6 linked regions of the Homo sapiens genome follow. The protein of the gene in region 3 purifies or fractionates together with the protein of the main gene of each other region. This does not show direct contact. Each region holds a gene or a part of one and is shown on either strand. Other genes may lie near its edges.

Region 1 (3,655 bases), on a different chromosome or scaffold from region 3:
AAAAAAACCCCAATTTATATATAATGACTGAATATATGAAAAAGTAGATTTTCCAAACCAAATGGAAAGGGTAGAGTTATCCCCCAACTGTTGATGATTACATACTATCCATTAAAAGTGACTCAGGACAAACTGCAAAGAACTTTTTAGTACATCAAATAATTTAAATGGCAGCAAACAAAACACTGAATTCATCAGAATCATGTAAAAACTTCTTTCTTAAATCTAAAGCAGCAAAAGCAGTTGAAAAATAAAAAACTTTCAATAGAAAATATCACATTTTTAAAGTGCCAACCGAAAATTAGAAAGTTAAAAAATTAATTTTAAAAATAAAAACTAAAACAATACTTTGGGAAAGACATATGAAATAGAACAAAAGATTAATACATGTATATATAATAAAATTTACTCATTAAAAACCACTGGAAAAATATTAAGACGCCAATAGTAATGGACAAAAACATGTATGGATGATTCATATAAAGCAATATAGAAACAGTGAACAAATCAGAAAAAATGTTCAAACGATAAAAAAAATTAAGTAAAAATTGAAACAACAGGACACCATCAAAATCACTGATGAGATTATGATAAAACTGATAAATTCATATACTACTGGTGATACTATGAACTAATATTATATTTTAGAAAATATAACAATAATTATCAAGAACCATGAAGAAATTAGCATCCTTCGATGTAATAATCTTACTCTTGGAAATCCATGTAAGAAATTCATCCTAAAGACATAATATTTAATAATCTTTAAAGTTACATGCAAGAATAGGTTCACTATAGTGTTACCTAAAAAAGGATAACTGAAAATAACCTAAACATTCATCTAAGTTTGAAAAGTGAAGTACATTATGAAGTCAACTGAAAAACAACTATGCTTGGGCTTAAAAAGATACTGATAAAGAATGGTTAACAGTATTGGAAATATGTTTCTGTCAAGTGAAAAAGTGGACTCTAGTATATATATTAGTGACATAAAATGTTCAAATATGGTATTGACTGGATGTCTGTGTCCTCCCAAAATTCCTAAGCTAAAACTCTAATCCCCAATGTGATGATATTTGGAGATGGAGCCTTTAGAAGGTGATTAGGTCATGAGGGTAGACTCTCACGATAGGATTAGTGCCCTTGGAAAAAAAGACAGGGGAGGGCTTGCTTCTTTGTGTCTCTCCCACCTTCCCCACCCCACCCCACCCCACCACCCCATCCCCACACAAAGTAGACAGTGCATAAATATTTCCTAAATGAATAGCCAGTGCTTAAAAAGCACTGGTTGAATGGATGAATGGTGCTTAAATAAAAGATTCTAAGTAATAACACTGTAACAAGTATACAACATACCCTCTACAAATGACAGTTCCCTTCGCCTTTCACAAAATTTAATGCCCTCATTCTAGGATTTTCCAGTCCTTAATTTTGACCATTACAATCTTTTGGCCATTTTATTATATCTCATTAAGTCTAATTCACATCTAATCATACTATTAAATGCTTATTTTATCCTTTGCTCTCACTTTCATGCAAATTTGTTGGTAAATGAGTATAGAAAATTTTATAAATGAAAATAAAATGGAATACCTTCTTACTGGTCATAGGATGGTCTAAGTGAAGAGTGCTTGTTCATACCACGTAACTCTCCTGAAAATCAATATGAACCTACCTCCAAGACCAAGGTCTTTGAGAACATGATAACCACCCGGCTGCAGGAATTCTCCAACTATTCTGTCAGGCTCTTTTAAGTCTCTCTCAATGACTGTCACCTTTCTTCCATCTCTGGAAAGCACAGCTGCCAAAGCAGAGCCAAGCACGCCAGCTCCCACGATGATAACTTCTGGGTCATTCTGAGAAGATGTTGATGTACAGGCAGCTGTTCCTATTAAGCTTGTTTCTGAAATATTGGTTCCTTTTCTGCGCTGTTTAAAAAAAAAAAGGTAAACTAGGTATCCAAATTTGTTAGATTCAAATCATGCTACCGCTATGTGGACACACTGGACTTTTGCATCCTAGGCTAAAGCTAGATACTAAATATTATCAAACCAAACAAATTGTTACATTTTAAAATCTAGATAATATATAAAAATCAATGATATCAAAATATTCGTTAAATAAAAGTGTGTCATATTATCCCAATAAAATTAAATATTTATTGTTTTCTAAACATGATATTTGGAAAATGTTATACAGACATATTTAGAAATCCACACTGGGCCGAATATAATAAATGTTTATAAGGGGCTTCAAAGACTTATTATAGGGCAAACTGTATCATTAATAACTAAATTCTTCAAATATATCCTGGGAATCGACAAGATGCAAATCACTTACAACTTCTGATTTGAGTTCATGTTACAAACTATTCGGCACCTTTTAGACATTTTCTTTTTTTTGTTTGTTTTTTTGTTTGTTTGTTTGAGACTGAGTTTCACTCTTGTTGCCCAGGCTGGAGTGCAATGGCGCAATCTCGGATCACTGCAACGTCCGCCTCCTGGATTCAAGCAATTCTCTGGCCTCAGCCTCCCGAGTGGCTGGGATTATAGGCATGTGCAACCATGCCCGGCTAATTTTGTATTTTTAGTAGAGACTGGGCTTCTCCATGTTGGTCAGGCTGGTCTTGAACTCCCGACCTCAGGTGATCCTCCTGCCTCAGCCTCCCAAAGTGCTGGGATTACAGGCGTGAGCCACTGCGTGCGGCCTTAGATATTTTCATTATTCATCTTTATTTTCTCTTTCTGGATTTTCATTTGAAAAATCTATGTTAATTTAATATCACTTTTATATGACAAAAGGATTGTCAAATCCTGCCTACCAATCTATTAATTGAAGATTATCTAAATAAACAAAATTACAAGAGAAGAAATAACTCATACCGACTCTTAGATTTGACTTGTTTACAATTTTGGTCCTTAACATATAAGCACATATTTAATTTATCCCTCCTTTTTCCCCATCCTGATACTCTAAGAGATCCTAGTCAAAGAGGTGGTCCCCAAAAAAGGAACAAGGAAAAACATTAAACCTGTCACTGGCTGAACTGACAGCAAAACTTTAACTTTGATCATAAAAAGATGCAAAGTCTTGTTTTGAGAGATTTATGACCACTAAGAACAACAGTGCACAGTGGCTTTTTAAAATGAACAATTCAATTTTGTAGTATTTCTTCTTGGTAGATGGATTCACACATTTGAATACATTTCAGATACAGAATTGCAAGGAACCACCTTCCTTGAGTTCTTTGACCTTAATGATTAAGATAAGACTAAATGCCATTTGAAGGGGTTTTTAAAAAATAATCAAGCAAAAAGGAAGACGAAGCCTAAAATCCTTTAGAACTTTACTCTGTGATTCTAATATCCACCCAGCATTCTTTTACCTCTATAGTGGACTGGGAATTTGTCTATTCTTTTTTTTTTTTTAATTTCTCTCAGAAAAATACTTTTCTGTCCTTTTACTATGGGAAGATCTCAATATTCTACTCTTCCCATTAGTATGTCTTAATGGCCAGAACTGACTATATTTAAATTACTGTAGGGGGCAAGACAAGCCCCTTTTGTCATCTTAACCAAAAATGTGCTTCTTCATAAGTTTTTCCTGTTTTATATACACACACACACACACACACACACACACACACACACACACC
Region 2 (3,655 bases), on a different chromosome or scaffold from region 3:
GTTCTGTAACTTCATCTTAATAAGGGTCTATATATTCTCATTCTGAAAATCTAGGAAAATTAACACATATAAAATTAACACAGCTCCCAAAACTTACCTTAAATATGAAGTTTGAGCAGGCTGTGCTGTCACTGAGGAATTCACATTTGGAGGCAGAGATCTCAGTGGACCAATTTGATCGGGTCCTAGGCTATAGCTTTGGGCAACAGTTACTTGGTGAATGCTCTGACCCATATAGTTTCCACCATGTGATTGAACTGGATATGTCTATTAATCAGAAAGAAAAAGTTGATTCACTCATCTCCCAAACATGTGCCTAATAATATATTTAAAATGTTAAAAGACTTAAAGGAAAGAAACTATACTTCTTTGGGAAGCAATCTGATTCTACCAATCTATCCATCTTAGAACTAAAAGTGGAGAGCTGTCAAATCACAGTGCCAAATCTATGGAAATTTGATTTGTTTGGCTGTTCTTTTATTTTTACAGAGAGCTGGGAGAAAGACAGGTGGTGTACTTTTAAGTAGTGGATTGCAATCTATCCAGGTTGCCTATTACTCAGTAAAGATGTCTTGCTGTAGAGCCACAGAAAACTATACACTCCCTTGAAGGGAAGCCCACCATCACTTAAAGTCACTATAAGAATGATAACCTTCTTTACCCTCATCCCTGGATGACTCATCCAACTCCTTCCTAAGAAAGAAACTTGAGAGAAAAAGCTGAAAAAGAAATGGTATAAGGGTGCCAGGGCTTCCCTGGCAATGTCTACCTTATTCTCTACCTTTAAGACAAACAGGACAAAAGTAAAGAAGAGTTATGGGCAAAAGACATGTATCCTCAGGAAACAGCAAAAATGGTTTAGGTCTCTTTGGACATTTATATGTGCCCTACTTATTTTCAGGACAACAGCTCCTTAAGGACAGGGTCTACCACCTGTCTACTAAATATAGCATCAAAACAATGCATACATTTAATATCATATCATACCATAATGATCATCAATCCAGTTTTAAATTAAGCTATTTTTAAAGTAAATACCATTCATCTGAAAATTTAGAATGCTAGAAATGCCAAATAAGCTATATTAAGTACAATCACATTACCTCCTTAGTAGACATGTAACAATCTACTGACAATAGGCTGAGACTGTGAGAATCAGCGTCTTCTGCAGTTTAGGGTTCCTGAGTAGCCTACACAATATAACTAATGTGTTACCCCAACTGCTTCTAGTAGAGATATATTTTTGTCAAATTAGAATAGAAACTTTTGAATATTTCAAATGCTCTTGAGTGAACAGTGTAGGTACAGATTACGTGAGGAATCAAACAGAAAGTTAACTTTTTAGAGACATGAGTTGTGCTTGGCAAAACGCAGTAAGTAGAATGCAACTAAACACCAAAACCTGACACAGAATGGCAAATAACCCTTTACAGACACACAAAAAAGCAAACATAAAGTTTTATCATACAATGATGCAGACACTGCTGTTTTGTTCCACTTTCACAGCAGCAGCGAACAACTCTGAAAACAGAAGCAAACTGAATAAATCCCAAAGGTCTTTTGCAGCCAGAAAAATCTTTCCTACCCTCCTAATTTTCAAAAAGATCAAGGCATGGCATATTTGATAAATGTATCTTGTCTGACGTGACAGTTACCATAGTGACTATTCTTTTTTTACTTAACAATTATGTTGTGTCAAGTCATCTAAATTATGCACCCACATTCTACCCTTTCTCCTTGGTGTCTCCTTCACATGCACCTTTACATACCAGTTTTCATAAATTAACATGAATTTTGCTCATCCAAGCTCATTCTGAATTCAATTGGCTAATTGGCTGAAATTTCAAAAAACGCTTCCGAATGGGGATACTGACAAATGTAAGTATTCGCTTCACATGGCAAGCACACAAAAAAGGTGAAAAGTACTGGAAAAAGATGGCTTATGGATGTTCATGGATGGCTTACGGAGTCTGTACCTCCTAGACATGTATCATATCTTTGCTATGCACAGATTTTTAACAATGTAAGTCATGCAGCTAAGTAAAGGAAGTATAAAGCATACTCTAGAAGTTCATTGTGCCTGTTAATAATCATGTAAGTCAAATAAATCTTTATGGAAATTTGTAAAGAAATGTTAAATCTTGTTGAGCAGCAGGAAAGCGTTAGTACCTCACCTGGGGAACTTCTGATATGTCAGGTATTGTCCTAAATCAAAAGATTTATACTCCATATTTACAAAAAGGATTTATGTTTACATAAAAGATTTATGCTTTATACTTACAAAAGCATATGAAGAACCAGAACTACCCTCACATATTTAATGGTCTTTTCATCCATGTTAAAACTGAACTAAAATGTATTTGTGAAATATCAGTATCTGTCTAATTTGCTCTGGTGAATGTTAATTGTTTAGCCAATATTTACTGAAACAATCAAAGATAAATTTTATAATTTTATTCACAGACAAAAGAAATCTTAATACTATGCTATAAAACATTTTCTTTTACTTTTAAAAGTTGTTTATAATTTAGAAAATGTTCTCAAAAAACATGCTCACCTGCATTGGAACCCCAGATGATGCAGGTGGGTAATGTGCTGGAGGGTGGAGCTTTGAATAGACTGAGTACACTGGTGCTTCATTCACCAATTTGTTATATAGTTCCAGAGCTTCCAGGACTTTAACATTCAATTCAGACAATTCTGAATGCTTCCTGATGTAGAAGAAAAGTATTATAATACTCTTCTAGTTTTTAGCATGTATTTAGTAATATAAATTATTTTTTTAATTTAGCACAATTTCTATTAATATATTAAAAGGCTTTTTTATATTTAATGAAAGAATATTCACAAAGGGAAACTAAGAGGAAGAACTGCTTAATCCTTGTAATAGCTAGGCTGATATTGAGGCAGGAGAATAGGGTCTGGAGGCAGGGAATCTAAGGCTGATTTTCAAGCTGACTTCTTATAACTAAATTGAAAGGAAAACCAACCCTAACTTTCCACACCTAAGTAACAAAAGGACCAGAGGCTACTTCCTTTGCAAACCCCCCACGTTTTCTGTGCAGCAGATGGGAAATTGGGTGTCCGAAAAAAATCAGACTGATTACAGGTCCAGTCTCCATTTGCAACTTTGTAACTTCAGCCTCTGAATGGTTGCTGTCCACAACCAATCAGACTGACTGTGGGCGGAGTCTTCATTTGCAAAGAAATATAACTTTGTAACTTCACCCTAGCCTCTGATTGGTTGCTTTTTGCAACCAATCAGATGTTTGCACAGCAGTGTTACCTTTGTAACTTCATTTCAGCCTCTGGTTGGCTGCTTTCTGCAACCAATCAGACTGATTGTGAGCTTCCACTTCATTTACATGAGGTGAGCACGAAAAGGCCAATGGGAAACTTCTAGGGGGTACTTGGACCCAAGAAGATTCTGTATCCTGGCCCTTGAGCTGCTGCTCAGGCCCACTCCCACACTGTGGGGTGTACTTTCATTTTCAATAAAACCCTGCTTTTGTTCTTTTGTTGCTTCCATCTTTCTTTGCTTTGCTGGGCATTTTGTCCAATTCTTTGTTCAAAATGCTAAGAACATGGACAACTTGCAGTCACAATCCTCTACTGGTGACAATATGACTTTATAATATTAGGGAAAAGTCCTTCC
Region 3 (2,563 bases):
TGTAGTCTCAGCTACTTGGGAGGCTGAGGTGGGAGGATCGCTTGGCCCAGGAGGTGGAGGTTGCAGTGAACCGAGATTGCACTGCTACACTCCAGCCTGGGCGACAGAGTGAGACCCTGTTTCAAACAAACAAACAAACAAACAAACAAACATAGGTTGGGCAAACTACAGCCTGTCACTTGTTTTGTAAATGAAATTTTGTTGAAACAGCCATACCCATTGGTTAATGTATTGTCTAGACAATTTTGTGCTTTGATGGCAGAGTTGCAGCAGAGACTCTATGGCCTACCAAGCCTGAAATAGTTATTATTTGGTCCTATAAATAGAAGAAGTTGGCCAACCACTAGTCCATCTAGAAGAGGGACATCAAAGTGATAACAGTTACTTCTCAGAGTAGCGTTTCAGAGGATTTCTAATTCTTCTTTTGTACCTTTCTGCATGCTGGCTTTGTTTGTTTTCAAGGATCATATATTGTTTTTATAATCAGAATAATAATAGAGATATTTGGTGGGGGGAAAGGAAGGGAGCTGTTTGTGGAGTCTGGCTGGTCTGTGGGTCCCCCCTTTCCTCTGCCAGAGAATATGCAGCCCTGGGCGAGGCCCTCCTTGGTTCTGGCATCTCTGTATCTCTGGTATCTTTGTAGAACCCCTCCATTAAGCCCACATTGCCATCCCGCTACCATCCCATTTTTTTTTTTTTTTGAGACAGGATCTTACTGTGTTGCCCAGGCTGCAGTGCAGTGGTGTAATCATGGCTCACTGCAGCCTCAAACTCTGAGGTTCAAGTGATCCTCCCGCCTCAACCTCCTGAGTGGCTGAGACTACAGGCACGCACCACCATGCCCAGCTAATTATTTAAAAAAAATTTTTTTTCTTTGAGACGGAGTCTTGCTCTGTTGCCCAGGTTGGAGTGCAGTGGCGCAATCTTGGCTTACTGCAGCCTCTGCCTCCCAGGTTCAAGCAATTCTCCTGCCTCAGCATCCTGAGTAGCTGGGATTACAGGCACCTGCCACTACGCCTGGCTAATTTTTGTATTTTTATTAGAGACGGGGTTTCACCATGTTGCCCAGGCTGGTCTTGAACTCCTGGCTCAAGCAATCCACCAGCTTTAGCCTCCCAAAGTGCTGGGATTACAGGTGTGAGTCACCATGCCTGGCCCATCCCACAATGGTTCACAGTAAAACCATTCAAAAGAATCATTGATTCCCATTTTCTCATCTTCCATTCTGTCTTTAACACATTCCAGACAGGATCTTGTCTACTCCTCTCTACTGAAATGGCTGCTTATTTATTTGTCTACTTATTTACTGTCTATCTCTCTCTTCTTTTTTTTCTTTTTTTGAGATGGAGTTTTGCTCGGTCTCCCAGGCTGGAGTGCAGTGGCATGGTCTCGGCTCATGGCAACCTCCACCCTCCCGGGTTCAAGTGATTCTCCTGCCTCAGCCTTCCAAGTAGCTGGGATTACAGGCATGCACCCCCACACCCAGCTAATTTTCATATTTTTAGTAGAGATGGGGTTTCACCATGTCGGCCAGGCTGGTCTTGAACTCCTGACCTCAAGTGATGTGCCCACCTCGGCTTCCCAAAGTGCTGGGATTACAGGCGTAAGCCACCTCACCCAGCCCTTATTGTCTATCTCTATCCCTAGAATATAAGTTCCTTGGAGGTAAAAAACTGTATTGCTATTATATCCCGTATTCTTTTTTATTTTTATTTTCCAAATTCTTTTTTGAGATTGAATCTTGCTCTTTTGCCCAGGCTGGAGTACAGTGATGTGATCTCAGCTCACTGTAACCTCCGCCTCCTGGGTTCAAGTAATTCTCCTGCCTCAGCCTCCTGAGTAGCTGGGATTACAGGCATGAGCCACCACGCCCAGCTAATTTTTGTATTTTCAGTAGAGACGGGGTTTTGCAATGTTGGCCAGGCTGGTCTTGAACTCCTGACTTCAGGGGATCCGCCTGCCTTGGCCTCCCAAAATGCCCCAGCATCATCCCAATTACAGGCATGAGCCACTGTGCCCAGCCCAAATTCTTTTTTTTTTTTTTTTTTGAGACGGAGAGTTTCACTCTTGTTGCCCAGGCTGGAGTGCAATGGCACGATCTCAGCTCACTGCAACCTTCGCCTCCCAGGTTCAAGCAATTCTGCCTCAGCCTCCAAAGTAGCTGGGATTACTGGCATGTGCCACCACGCCTGGCTAATTTTTTGTATTTTTAGTAAAGACAGGGTTTCACCATGTTGGCCAGGCTGGTTTCGAACTCCTGACCTCAGGTGATCCACCTGCCTCGGCCTCCCAAAGTGCTGGGATTACAGGAATGAGCTACCACGTCCACCCAGCCCAAATTCTTAAATAGTACCTAGCACATAGTAGGGGCTTGAACAATATGTGTTGAATACTGAATCAGCTGATTGGTCCCTCCCCGGGGTGCCCGTGCTCACCAGAGCCACGTGGACTGTGAACTCAACGCCAATGCCTACAGAGGCCACAAGGATCACCACGGGGATGGCACTCAGCTTGATGCCCAGGAAACCCATGATACCAAAGAGTTCCACTGTCATCATCGCCA
Region 4 (3,655 bases), about 110 Mb from region 3:
CAATGGTGCAGTCTCAGCTCACTGCAACCTCCACCCCCTTGTTCAAGCAATTCTTCTACCTCAGCCTCCTGAGTAGCTGGGATTACAGGCATGCGCCACCACGCCTGGCTAATTTTGTGTTTTTACTAGAGACGGGGTTTCTCCATGTTGGTCAGGCTGGTCTCAAACTCCTGACCTCAGGTGATCCACCCACCTCAGCCTCCCAAAGTGTTGGGATTACAGGCATGAGCCACCACGCCCAGCCTGGGGAATATTTTTAGGGTTATGCCTAACACCAGTCTTTTCCTCAACAGGTTGCTACAACTATCTGTATAGGATGAAAGCTCTGGATGCCATTCGTACCTCTGGTAAGGGCTACCTGACAGGGTCCATTCTAGGATCCTGAAAGCCCACCTAGGGAACAGAGTAATGAACCCACTTTGTATGTTAGGATTTGTCCTTTCTGCACATCCCTGGCTAGTAGGAAATTCTAGAGTTTTGAAAGTACTAGATTAGAGATTTTGCTGAAGGAAATGATATAAGCAGGTTATTCTCCAAAGAGTCTGGGTGTTTTGTTTTTTAAAGTTCTTCTCTTGAGACCTTTAGTTTCATGAAGTAGATGATAGTAATTTGCTTGTTTTTCCACAAAGGACAGGTGGCACCTGCTTTTTCACTAAGCCCAAGATAGATTGTTCTTGAATTTTTTCCATTCTGTCAACACTTGTCATATATGCTTTATCTCTATGAAAACAGTTTATATCTTAAACCTAGGATGGATGAGTAAGCAGGATGGTAAAATGTGTGATGACACTATCATGTGTCATAGATGTAGCTTACAACTGTGGTGTTACCACCAAATGACCACTCAGGCACAGCTTTATACCTTTGGTCTCAATCAGAATCTCCCTCTAACTCAACTTGCTCATTTCATTAGACCTATTTCTTTTTATTTTTGAGACGGAGTCTTGCTCTGTTGCCCAGGCTGGAGTGCAGTAGCACGATCTTGGCTCACCACAACCTCCACCTCCTGGGTTCAAGCGGTTCTCCTGCCTCAGCCTCCCGAGTAGCTGGGATTACAGGTACCTACCACCATGCCTGGTTAATTTTTGTATTTTTAGTAGGGACAGGTTTTCACCATGTTGGCCAGGCTGGTCTCAAACTCCTGACCTCAGGTGATCTGCCTGCCCCGGCCTCCCAAATTGCTGTAATTACAGGCGTGAGCCACTGCGCCCAGCTTCATTAGACCTACTTCTAAGTTTGGGGAATTAACTAGAAAGACTAAAGAATGGGGCAGGCGCAGTGGCTCATGCCTGTAATCCCAACGCTTTGGGAGGGCGAGGCAGACAGATCACAGGAGGCCAGGAGTTCAAGACCAACCTAGCCAACAAGGTGAAACCCTTTTGTATTTTTGTCTCTACTAAAAATACAAAAATAAGCCTGGCATGGTGGTGCACATCTGTAATCCCAGCTAATCAGGAGGCTGAGACTAGAGAATTGCTCAAACCTAGGAGGTGGAGGTTGCAGTGAGCCAAGATCACTGCCACTGCACTCCAGCCCGGGTGACAGAGCGAGACTCCATCTCAAAAAAAAAGACTAAAGAATGAGAAGAGATATCATTGTGCTGTTTTCTCCACAGAGATCCCATTTCATTCTGAAGGCCGGCATCCCCGTTCCTTAATGGGCAAGAATTTCCGCTCCTACCTGCTGGATCTGCGAAACACTAGTACGCCTTTCAAGGGTGTACGCAAAGCACTCATTGATACCCTTTTGGATGGCTATGAAACAGCCCGCTATGGGACAGGGGTAAGCCAGTTTTTTCTTCGGGGCACTAAAGAGATCCCTCAGACTGAGAGATCCTCACTCTTCCTTTCTCTTTCCTAAGGTCTTTGGCCAGAATGAGTACCTACGCTATCAGGAGGCCCTGAGTGAGCTGGCCACTGCGTGAGTTTGGAGGGGAACGTGTCAGAGGGAGCTGGTACAGTAGTGTTGGACTGTTGCCACAGTGCAGTGACCTTCATAAAGCATATAAACAAAATCCATGATACCATAAGAGTTGTCAGGTTCTAGACTATTAGATCAGTCTCTTACATTAGAAAGCAGATGCGGCCGGGCACAGTGGTTCACGCCTATAATCCCAGCACTTTGGGAGGCCGAGGCGGGAGGATCATCTGAGGTTGGGAATCCGAGACCAGCCTGACCAACATGGAGAAACCCCGTTCTCTACTAAAAATACAAAATTAGCCGGGCGTGGTGGCGCATGCCTGTAATCCTAGCTTCTGGGGAGGCTGAGGCAGGAGAATCTCTTGAACCCGGGAGGCGGAGGTTGCGGTGAGCCAAGATCGTGCCATTATACTCCAGCCTGGGCAACAAAAGTGAAACTCTGTCTCAAAAAAAAAAAAGAAGAAAAGAAAGCAGATGCAACTATACAAGCTAGTAAAAGAAGTTTTTACTAGCATTTTTCTTGTGTGCATTTTTCTTGTCTTTTGTTTAGCCCAATAAAATGTCAAAATTGGTGTAGCCTAGCAAAGGGAATAGTTTTTCAGCACACACAGGGATTCCTTCTCTTCAGAGTCTCAGCGTCCCTTTTGTGTCTTGGCCCAATAAAAGTAAGAATTAAATAACATTGGGCCGGGCGCGGTGGCTCACGCCTGTAATCCCAGCACTTTGGGAGGCCGAGGCAGGCGAATCATGAGGTCAAGAGATCAAGACCATCCTAGCCAACAAGGTGAAACCCTGTCTCTACTAAAAATACAAAAATTAGCTGGGCATGGTGGTGCGTGCCTGTAATCTCAGCTACTCGGGTGGCTGAGGCAGGAGAATCGCTTGACCCCAGGAGGCAGAGGTTGCAGTGAGCTGAGATCACGCCACTGCACTCCAGCCTGGTGACAGAGCAAGACTCCATCTCAAAAAAAAAAAAAAAAAAAAAAAAAAAAAAAGAATTAAATAACATCTATTTTTGGCCGGGCGCGGTGGCTCACGCCTATAATCCCAGCACTTTGGGAGGCCGAGGAGGGTGGATCACAAGGTCAGGAGTTCAAGACCAGCCTGGCCAACATGGTGAAACCTCGTCTTTACTGAAAATACAAAAATTAGCTGGGCATGCTGGCGGGCTCCTGTAATACCAGCTACTCGGGAGGCTGAGGCAGAAATCACTTGAACCCGGGAGGTGGAGGTTGCAATGAGCCGATATCATGCCATTGCACTTCAGCTGGGGTGACAAGAGCATGACTGTCTCAAAAAAAAAATAAAAATTAAAAATTAAAAAAATCTATTTTTACTACCACTTAAAGTATTAGTAACCATGTCTGAAACAAAGGCCATCGCTATAGAGTCAGCTGTTGAGCATTTGTGTCACAGGAGAGGATTCATGGCTTTTGTTTGGGAATGTTTTTAATACACACTAAACATAGTCTCGTATTTTCATGCAAATGTTAAAATCAAAGTTCTTGGCGAGAAAGGAAAGCCAATCTAGAGTAAAAACTTAGGCCGGGCGCAGTGGCTCACACCTGTAATCCCAACACTGGGAGGCCGAGGCAGGTGGATCATCTAAGGTCAGGAGTTCAAGACCAGCTTAACCAACATGGTGAAACCCCATCTCTACAAAAATACAAAAATTAGCCGGGCATGATGATGTGCGCACCTGTAATGCCAGCCACTCAGGAAGGTGAGGCAGGAG
Region 5 (3,655 bases), on a different chromosome or scaffold from region 3:
TACAGTAAAAATGTGGTATTATAATCTTAAGGGAACACCATCACATGTGGTCCATTGTTAACCAAAATCTCCTTCTGGGGTGCATGACAGGATGTGCATTGAAATGGAATGATGTCCAATGTTGTCATGTTACATGGACTCAGTTGAGTGGAGAGCAGTCTATAGAGCATGGTACTGGTTGGGCGGTAGAGGAGAGACTGAGAGCACATCTACATCTGGACAGATGTTGGATATTTCCAAAAGGACACAAAAACCAGTGTTGGTGGTTACTTCTGCAGAGGAAAAATGGGTAGCTAGATGCAGAAGTAGGACTTAACTTGTTCCTTTTGAATTCTGTGCCATGTACATGTATAACCTATTTTTTAAAAGTAATTAAGCTTAAGGCTGGACATGGTGGCTCACGCCTATAATCCTAGCATTTTGGGAGGCCCAAGGTGGGTGGATCACTTAAGTTCAGGAGTTCGAGACCAACCTGGGCAATATGGCCAAACCCCATCTCTACAAAAAAACAAAAACAAAAACAAAAACAAAACTTGAGCTTAAAAACAAAATAAAGAAATACACAAATTACTAGGATGGGGAAGCTTTCCAAAGAGAAAAGAAGGATATGAAACTGAAACGAGAAAGAGAGGGGATATCAGCTTTATCAGTATTATTTTACTTCTTTTATTTTAATAAAATATGAAACAAAAAGAGAAACAGGAATACGGGTGTTACCGCGCCTGGCTGATCTAGACTTTTAAAAAGACTTTTTATTTGTGTGATTCTGATGACTAGTCAAGTTGAGTATCACTGTTCTAAGGCTGGTTTAATATTAGAAAATTCAATCAATGCAATTTACTACATTAACAGGTTAAAGGAGAAAAAAATCATATGATCATCTCAATGGATGCAAAAAAAAGTTGATAAAATTCAGCCGGGCGCAGTGGCTCACACCTGTAATCCTAGCACTTTGGGAGGCTGAGGCGGGCGGATCACACGGTCAGGAAATTGACCTGGCTAACACGGTGAAACCCCGTCTCTACTAAAAATACAAAAAATTAGCCGGGCGTGGTGGCATGCGCCTGTAGTCCCAGATACTTGGGAGGCTGAGGCAGGAGAATCGCTTGAACCCAGGAGGCAGAGGTTGCAGTGAGCTGAGATCGCATCACTGCACTCCAGCCTCGGTGACAGTGACACTTCGTCTCCAAAAAAAAAAGTTGATAAAATTCAACATCCATCTATGATCAAAAGAATAATTGGCAAATTTGAAATAAGAGACAACGTTCTTAATCTGATAAAATGTAATTAACTATAAAAAACCTATACCAAACATCAAATTTAATGGTGAAGGGTAGAAAAAGCTTTCTTTTTAGAATCCAGAAAAGTCAAGAATTAAGATGTTTTGTCTATTTAACAATGTACTGGAAGCCTTCAGTAAAGCAATAAGGATAAATAAAAGGTATAAGACTTGGAAAGAAAGAAACAAAACTCATTACTCACAAATTATATGACTATGTGTATAGAATAAATTTAGCAAGTTTACTGAATTCACAATCAATTTTATTTCTATATATCAGCAACAAAGTGAAATAAATGTTAAAGGCATCAATTTTATTTCTTTTTTTTTTTTTTTTTTGAGACGGTGTCTCACTGTATTGCCCAGGCTGGAGTGCAGTGGCACAATCTGGGCTCATTGCAAGCTCCGCCTCCCAGGTTCACGCCATTCTCCTGCCTCAGCCTCCTGAGTAGCTGGGACTACAGGCGCCCGCCACCATGCCCGACTAACTTTTTGTATTTTTAGTAGAGATGGAGTTTCACCATGTTAGCCAGGACGGTCTCAATCTCCTGACCTCGTGATCCCCCTGCCTTGGCCTCCCGAAGTGCTGGGATTACAGGTGTGAGCCACCGTGCCCAGCCAGTTTTATTTCTATATGTCAGCAACAAACAAAGTGAAATAAATGTTAAAGGCATCATTTACAACAGCATCAAAAATATCAAGTACCTAGGAATGTCTAACAAATAATAAGTATTTAAATCTGTGCAGAATATTGAGAAAATGAAAGATCTAAATAGAAATATATAAATGTTCAATGTTTGGAAGACTCAGTATTGTAAAGATGTCTCTTTTTTTTTCCAAGTTAATCTATATAGTCAATGCAATCCCAATAAAAAATCACCAAGTATTTTTATATTAAAACACAAAGGAGCATTTTGGGAGGCCAAGGCAGGAGGATCACTTGAGCCCAGGAGTTCAAGACCAGCCGGGACAATAGGGTCAAACCCTGTCTCTATTAAAACACACACACACACACACACACACACACAATCAAGAATAGCTCAGACTCTCTACTAGATAGTGATATTCTGTAAGTAACATTCTTACCCTATGGTTCACAAAGGATTCTTGGAAAAATTCAGAGGTCCATGAATTTCAATGGGAAAAAAATTACACCTAACTAAAATTTGGCCCTTCCTCCAATTATGAATGTAAGCAACACATCGCAGTACATAATTTTTTTTTGTTTTTTTTTTCTTTTCTTTTTTTTTTTTTTGAGAGGGAGTCTCACTCTGTCACCCAGGCTGGAGTGCAGTGGCACGATCTCGGCTCACTGCAAGCTCCGCCTCCTGGGTTCACACCATTTTCCTGCCTCAGCCTCCCGAGTAGCTGGGACTACAGGCGCCCACCACCGCGCCCGGCTAATTTTTTGTATTTTTAGTAGAGATGGGGTTTCACCGTGTTAGCCAGGATGGTCTCGACTTCCTGACCTCGTGATCTGCCCACCTTGACCTCCCAAAGTGCTGGGATTACAGGTGTGAGCCACCACGCCTGGCCCACAGTACATAATGTTAATAGTACCTGTGGCGTTGTCACAAGTGGAAACCAGATATTTTTGTTGCAGATATCTTGAAATAATGTCAATGCTTATAATCACTTTGATATTATAGTTGTTATTACACCTGCACCAGATCTTATTTATTGTATAAATAAATAAGCCCACATACTTGCATTTTTATATTTGATAACTATTATGTCAATATAATTGATTTCCTTTGTAATCCTATAAACTCATATCTAGCATATATAAAGAACTCCTACAAATCTTACAAAAATGACAGATAGCCCCTATGGAAAAATATGTCAAAGATTTGAACAGACACTTCCCAAAAGCAGAAACCCTAAAGGCCAGTAAGCATTTAAAAAGGCATTTAACTTTACTAGTAATCAGGGAAGTGCAAATTAAAACCACAAATATATGCCACAATATAGCCACTAGATTGGCAAAAATGTAAAAGGCTGATAATACCAAATGTTGGGAATCATGTGAACCAGTGTTGACTTTCTACTAGCTAGTGGGAGTATAAGTTAGTACAACCACTTTGAAAAATGGTTTGGCAAAAGCCTAAAGTATGCGTGCCTTATTATCTAGCAATTCTACTTCTTCAGCATATACCTGAAGGAACTTGTGCCAGTTGTACTAGGATATACATAAAAGACTACTCACAGCAATGTTATTTGCAATGGGCAAAAACTTGAGATGACAATAAAATGGGTAAACAACTGGGGGTATACTCATATAATGGAATATTATTCAGCAATGAAGAAATAAGCTGCAGTATGAGGCGGGTGGCTCACCTGAAGTCAGGAGTTTGAGGCCAGCCTGACCAACATGGC
Region 6 (3,655 bases), on a different chromosome or scaffold from region 3:
GGGACAAACAGGAAATATGAGCACCATTTTCCAGAGGAGACCAAAGCTCACAGAGGTTAAGGAAGGCACTGAGAGTCACAGAACAAGCCCTTGATGGCCGGCACACCCTCACCTTTCTTCTTTTTTTCCCCCTTCTCACCTGTGTCTGCTTTCGGGAACAGCAAACCCGACAGGTAAGAACCAGCCCTCCCCCGTGGAGGCTTCAGGCAAGAGGAAGAGGACAGGGAATGGGCTGATAGTGTGCCCACAGGAGAGGGGATGCCCGGCTGCCCCCACAGCTTGTACACGTAGCTGTACTTGGTCCTGGAAACCCTAGTCATACGGGTCCATGGTCCTTTTCTTACCATGCATTCCTGGGGCCTGAATTGTGTTCACACATGAACATGTGCCACTACTAACTGGACTGTTCCGCTTGCTTCTCCTAAAGTAAACGCAAGGACTCAGAACCCCGCACCAAATGCCTCCTGAACAATGCCGACCTCGCCCCTCACCACCCCAAGGACCCTGTGGAAATGAGACGCATTAACTTCCAGACTCCAGGTATGTACTTATCCCTGGTACCAGGGATGCCACCAACAGGGGAGATAGCTGGGGAGAAGCAGTAGCTGCCACCCTGGGGGCCCCTCATTGGCCCCCTCTGAACTATGCTTGGTGCAGCCACATTCTGGATTCCCAAATACCTCCAACCCTACATGGATCTGGGCTTGGAACTCATAGGTTGGTTCTGCTTACAACCAAGTGAGGCTTTTTTTTTTTTAAAGTTAACATTTAACCAATGGCTGCTGTCCTCTTCAGGAGCCTAAAGACGATGTTTAAAAAATGGAGAAAACACAAATAAACCCCTCATTTCTTTGGGCAGAAAGAGCTATTCTTCTGTTTATGTCTCTGGTTTTAATGTTCCTCGGTGGTGGGAGTTGAGGTTTGCCCTCAGCCATTTTCCACACTCCCTTGGGATATATCCCTAGCAAGGTACAGAAATTATACCTGCCCAATGCCCTGTACCTCTTCCCACCATGGCTGCCAGGGTTCATGCCTCTTTATAGTTCCCTGTAGATTAAAGTCACCTGACAGTCCAGGAGAACTGAATCAAGGCCTTATCCTTGATCATTTTCATGTATGATTCACAAACTCTACCATCTCCTCCCTCTTCATGGGCTCATGCCAGCTGCTTCTAACCAAATAAGGAATTTTTCATTTTACTGATGGCTGCTATTCTCCTTATGGGTTCACAGCCAAGTTACATCTGTCCTTCCAACTGTACCCGGTCTCCACTTCGTATCTCTGAACTGGTTCATATCAACTCTATTTTCCAACCAAATGAAGATTTTAAACATTTGTATTTCACTGATGTCTTTAGTCCTCCTTAAAGCCTCATGCATAGCCTCACATGCCATTCCTGATGTACTTTCTTTTTTTTTGTCTCTGGACTGGCTTGTGTCACTTCTGTTTTCATCCAAATGAGGAGTTTGACCATTAGTATTTAACTGATGGCTGCTGTCCTCATAAAGGGATCATGCAGGGCCTCATGTATCACCCCTCGTGTATTCTCTTCCCTTTCTTTCCTCTGTACTGATTCGTGTTGCTTTGGTTTTTCAGCCAAATGAGAATTTTAAATGTGCATGTAACTGACGGCTGCAGTCTCCTGAAGGGATCATGCAGAGTCTCACAATTCACCGCTAATGTGCTCCCATCTCATTTCTGTCTCTGGACTAGCTGATGTCTGTTGTGTTTCCATCCAAATAAGGATTTTCAACATGTGCATTTAACTGATGGTTGCTGTCCTCCTTGAAGCTCATGGCATGGGCCCATATGTCCTTTCCCTGCTCCCCCAGCTTCTCCTTCACCATCCTGCATCCTCCTTCCTCAGAATGCCCTCTGCTGACCTCAACAGAGGGGACCCAAGGCCAGGCTGGTCTGGGGGAGGGGATCTGTAGACAGAAGAACCTAGCACTTTGGAGTCCTTCCAGAGTGACGGGTCAAGACCAGGATTGACTGGTGTCCAGCCAGAGGGGTACACAGTTAGCAGCTATCGTGAGTCCTCAGGTGGGGGCCCAGGTGGCTGTACATACCCCCCGTTGTCCGCGTTGCTCTGCCCTTTGCATCCGCCAGCCAGTGAGGGGTGGGGGAGGCAGAGGTGGGACCCCCCCCTACCCCCTGCATGTTTTCATTTATTTATTGTTTGCTGTTTGCAGATTCAGGCCTCAGGAGCCCCCTCAGGGAGCCGGGGTTTCACTTTGAAAGTTAGTTCTTGTGTCTGTTTTTGGCTTCCTTTCGCCCCCGCCCCCGTTCATTTCCTCTTTGGTTTCTCCATCGTGTCTCCTGTCTCTGTCCACACGCCCACCCATCACCGGCCTTTGCCCACCTGTCTTGTGCTGGCTCCTGGAAGAGGGCAGGGGGTTGGTCCATTGGGCCCTCAGGTGGCTGTGTGTGACTGCTGTGTGTGTGGTGTGTATGTGTGTGTCAGGGATGTGGGTGAGGCACGTATGTACCCAGGACGTGCCCACAGGACAGGCAGGCCCCTTAGATGTGAGCTCTTGGGGGGCACCCAGGACAGCTAGGGACACATGGAAGTCTCAGAACATTAAATGTTACCAGCTGGTCTGGAAACCACCTGAGAGCTGAACATCCGGTACACAGGTCCCAGGAGAGGTCAGGGTTCTGCAGACCCAGATATCGGGAAGGGAGAACCGAGCCCACACCCAGCACCTTCGGCAGCCATCCTAGGGGGCTTGAAAGGATAAGAGCTCTCAGGCCAGGGCCTTCTTGCACCTGCTCCTGCCCCAAGCAAGCGCAGGGACAGATGGGGACCCCTCACTCCTCTCACGTACACACACACATACTGTTTCCCCTCCCTAGTCTGTCGCCTCTACCTGGAAGCGGATTTCGTGCCTCTGATCCCAGAGGGACAGAAAGGGGTGTCAGTCGCCCACCCAAGGACAGTATTTCCAAAGCACAGCCGGCTGCGTCTGCAATTTAATTTCTGTGCCACACACTTGCTTCTTGGCTCGAGGCACTGGGAGCTTGACATCCTCTGGGGTGACCCTTCTGCCAGCCCCTGCACCCCCAGCTTGGTTGGAAGGAAACAGGATGGGCCAATGCTGTGATCCAGGCCCCTCCAGGGGTGTCAGCCTCTGCACGGAGCAGAGGGCCTCAAACCTGCTGCCTTTAGAGTCCCCTAGGCCTGGGGTCCCAGCCCCTTCATGAGCCACCCTGAGTCTTCCCCTCCTGCCAAGCCCCACCCCGGCCATGCCCTTCTAACCACAGCTCACCCATCGCAGACTCACACGTAGATCACCCCCCTCCCCCGAGTCCCCGGCTGGCCCCCCAAGTGACCAACCCCGGCGGGGTCTGCTCCACCCTGTAGGCATGCTTAGCCACCCGCCAATTCCCATCGCAGACATGGCGGAGCACACGGAGCGGCTCAAGGCCAACGACAGCCTCAAGCTCTCCCAGGAGTATGAGGTGAGCCCACCCCCGCCTCCCACCCTCATCACCTCGGCCTCACAGGCACCTACCCTGACACCCGCGCTCTCCCCTTCCTCTGTAGTCCATCGACCCTGGACAGCAGTTCACATGGGAACATTCCAACCTGGAAGTGAACAAGCCGAAGAACCGCTATGCCAACGTCATCGCCTATGACCACTCCCGTGTCATC

Evidence for each region.
Region 1: the proteins of PTCH2 (region 3) and SQLE purify together in Homo sapiens (affinity purification with mass spectrometry; one large-scale study listed by BioGRID and IntAct). This does not show direct contact.
Region 2: the proteins of PTCH2 (region 3) and STAM2 purify together in Homo sapiens (affinity purification with mass spectrometry; one large-scale study listed by BioGRID and IntAct). This does not show direct contact.
Region 4: the proteins of PTCH2 (region 3) and LTAP1 purify together in Homo sapiens (affinity purification with mass spectrometry; one large-scale study listed by BioGRID and IntAct). This does not show direct contact.
Region 5: the proteins of PTCH2 (region 3) and SMO purify together in Homo sapiens (affinity purification with western blotting, with the first as the bait; one study listed by BioGRID). This does not show direct contact.
Region 6: the proteins of PTCH2 (region 3) and PTPRS purify together in Homo sapiens (affinity purification with mass spectrometry; one large-scale study listed by BioGRID and IntAct). This does not show direct contact.

Annotation. Positions count from the first base shown.
Region 1 is NC_000008.11:125,001,449-125,005,103, reverse strand, and holds part of SQLE (squalene monooxygenase), read right to left. Parts: intron 1,929-3,655; coding exon 1,676-1,928; intron 1-1,675. UniProt on the Homo sapiens protein: Catalyzes the stereospecific oxidation of squalene to (S)-2,3-epoxysqualene, and is considered to be a rate-limiting enzyme in steroid biosynthesis.
Region 2 is NC_000002.12:152,123,669-152,127,323, forward strand, and holds part of STAM2 (signal transducing adapter molecule 2), read right to left. Parts: intron 2,712-3,655; coding exon 2,558-2,711; intron 268-2,557; coding exon 98-267; intron 1-97.
Region 3 is NC_000001.11:44,823,815-44,826,377, forward strand, and holds part of PTCH2 (protein patched homolog 2), read right to left. Parts: coding exon 2,436-2,563; intron 1-2,435. UniProt on the Homo sapiens protein: Plays a role in the control of cellular growth. May have a role in epidermal development. May act as a receptor for Sonic hedgehog (SHH).
Region 4 is NC_000001.11:154,210,585-154,214,239, reverse strand, and holds part of LTAP1 (protein C1orf43), read left to right. Parts: intron 1-293; coding exon 294-347; intron 348-1,615; coding exon 1,616-1,782; intron 1,783-1,861; coding exon 1,862-1,920; coding exon of another isoform or gene 1,921-1,924; exon of another isoform or gene 1,925-2,779; intron 2,780-3,655. UniProt on the Homo sapiens protein: General regulator of phagocytosis. Required to uptake Gram negative bacterium by macrophages.
Region 5 is NC_000007.14:129,194,980-129,198,634, reverse strand, and holds part of SMO (protein smoothened precursor), read right to left. Parts: intron 1-3,655. UniProt on the Homo sapiens protein: G protein-coupled receptor which associates with the patched protein (PTCH) to transduce hedgehog protein signaling. Binding of sonic hedgehog (SHH) to its receptor patched prevents inhibition of smoothened (SMO) by patched.
Region 6 is NC_000019.10:5,215,305-5,218,959, reverse strand, and holds part of PTPRS (receptor-type tyrosine-protein phosphatase S isoform 1 precursor), read left to right. Parts: intron 1-161; coding exon 162-173; intron 174-427; coding exon 428-540; intron 541-2,192; coding exon 2,193-2,240; intron 2,241-3,364; coding exon 3,365-3,462; intron 3,463-3,547; coding exon 3,548-3,655. UniProt on the Homo sapiens protein: Cell surface receptor that binds to glycosaminoglycans, including chondroitin sulfate proteoglycans and heparan sulfate proteoglycan.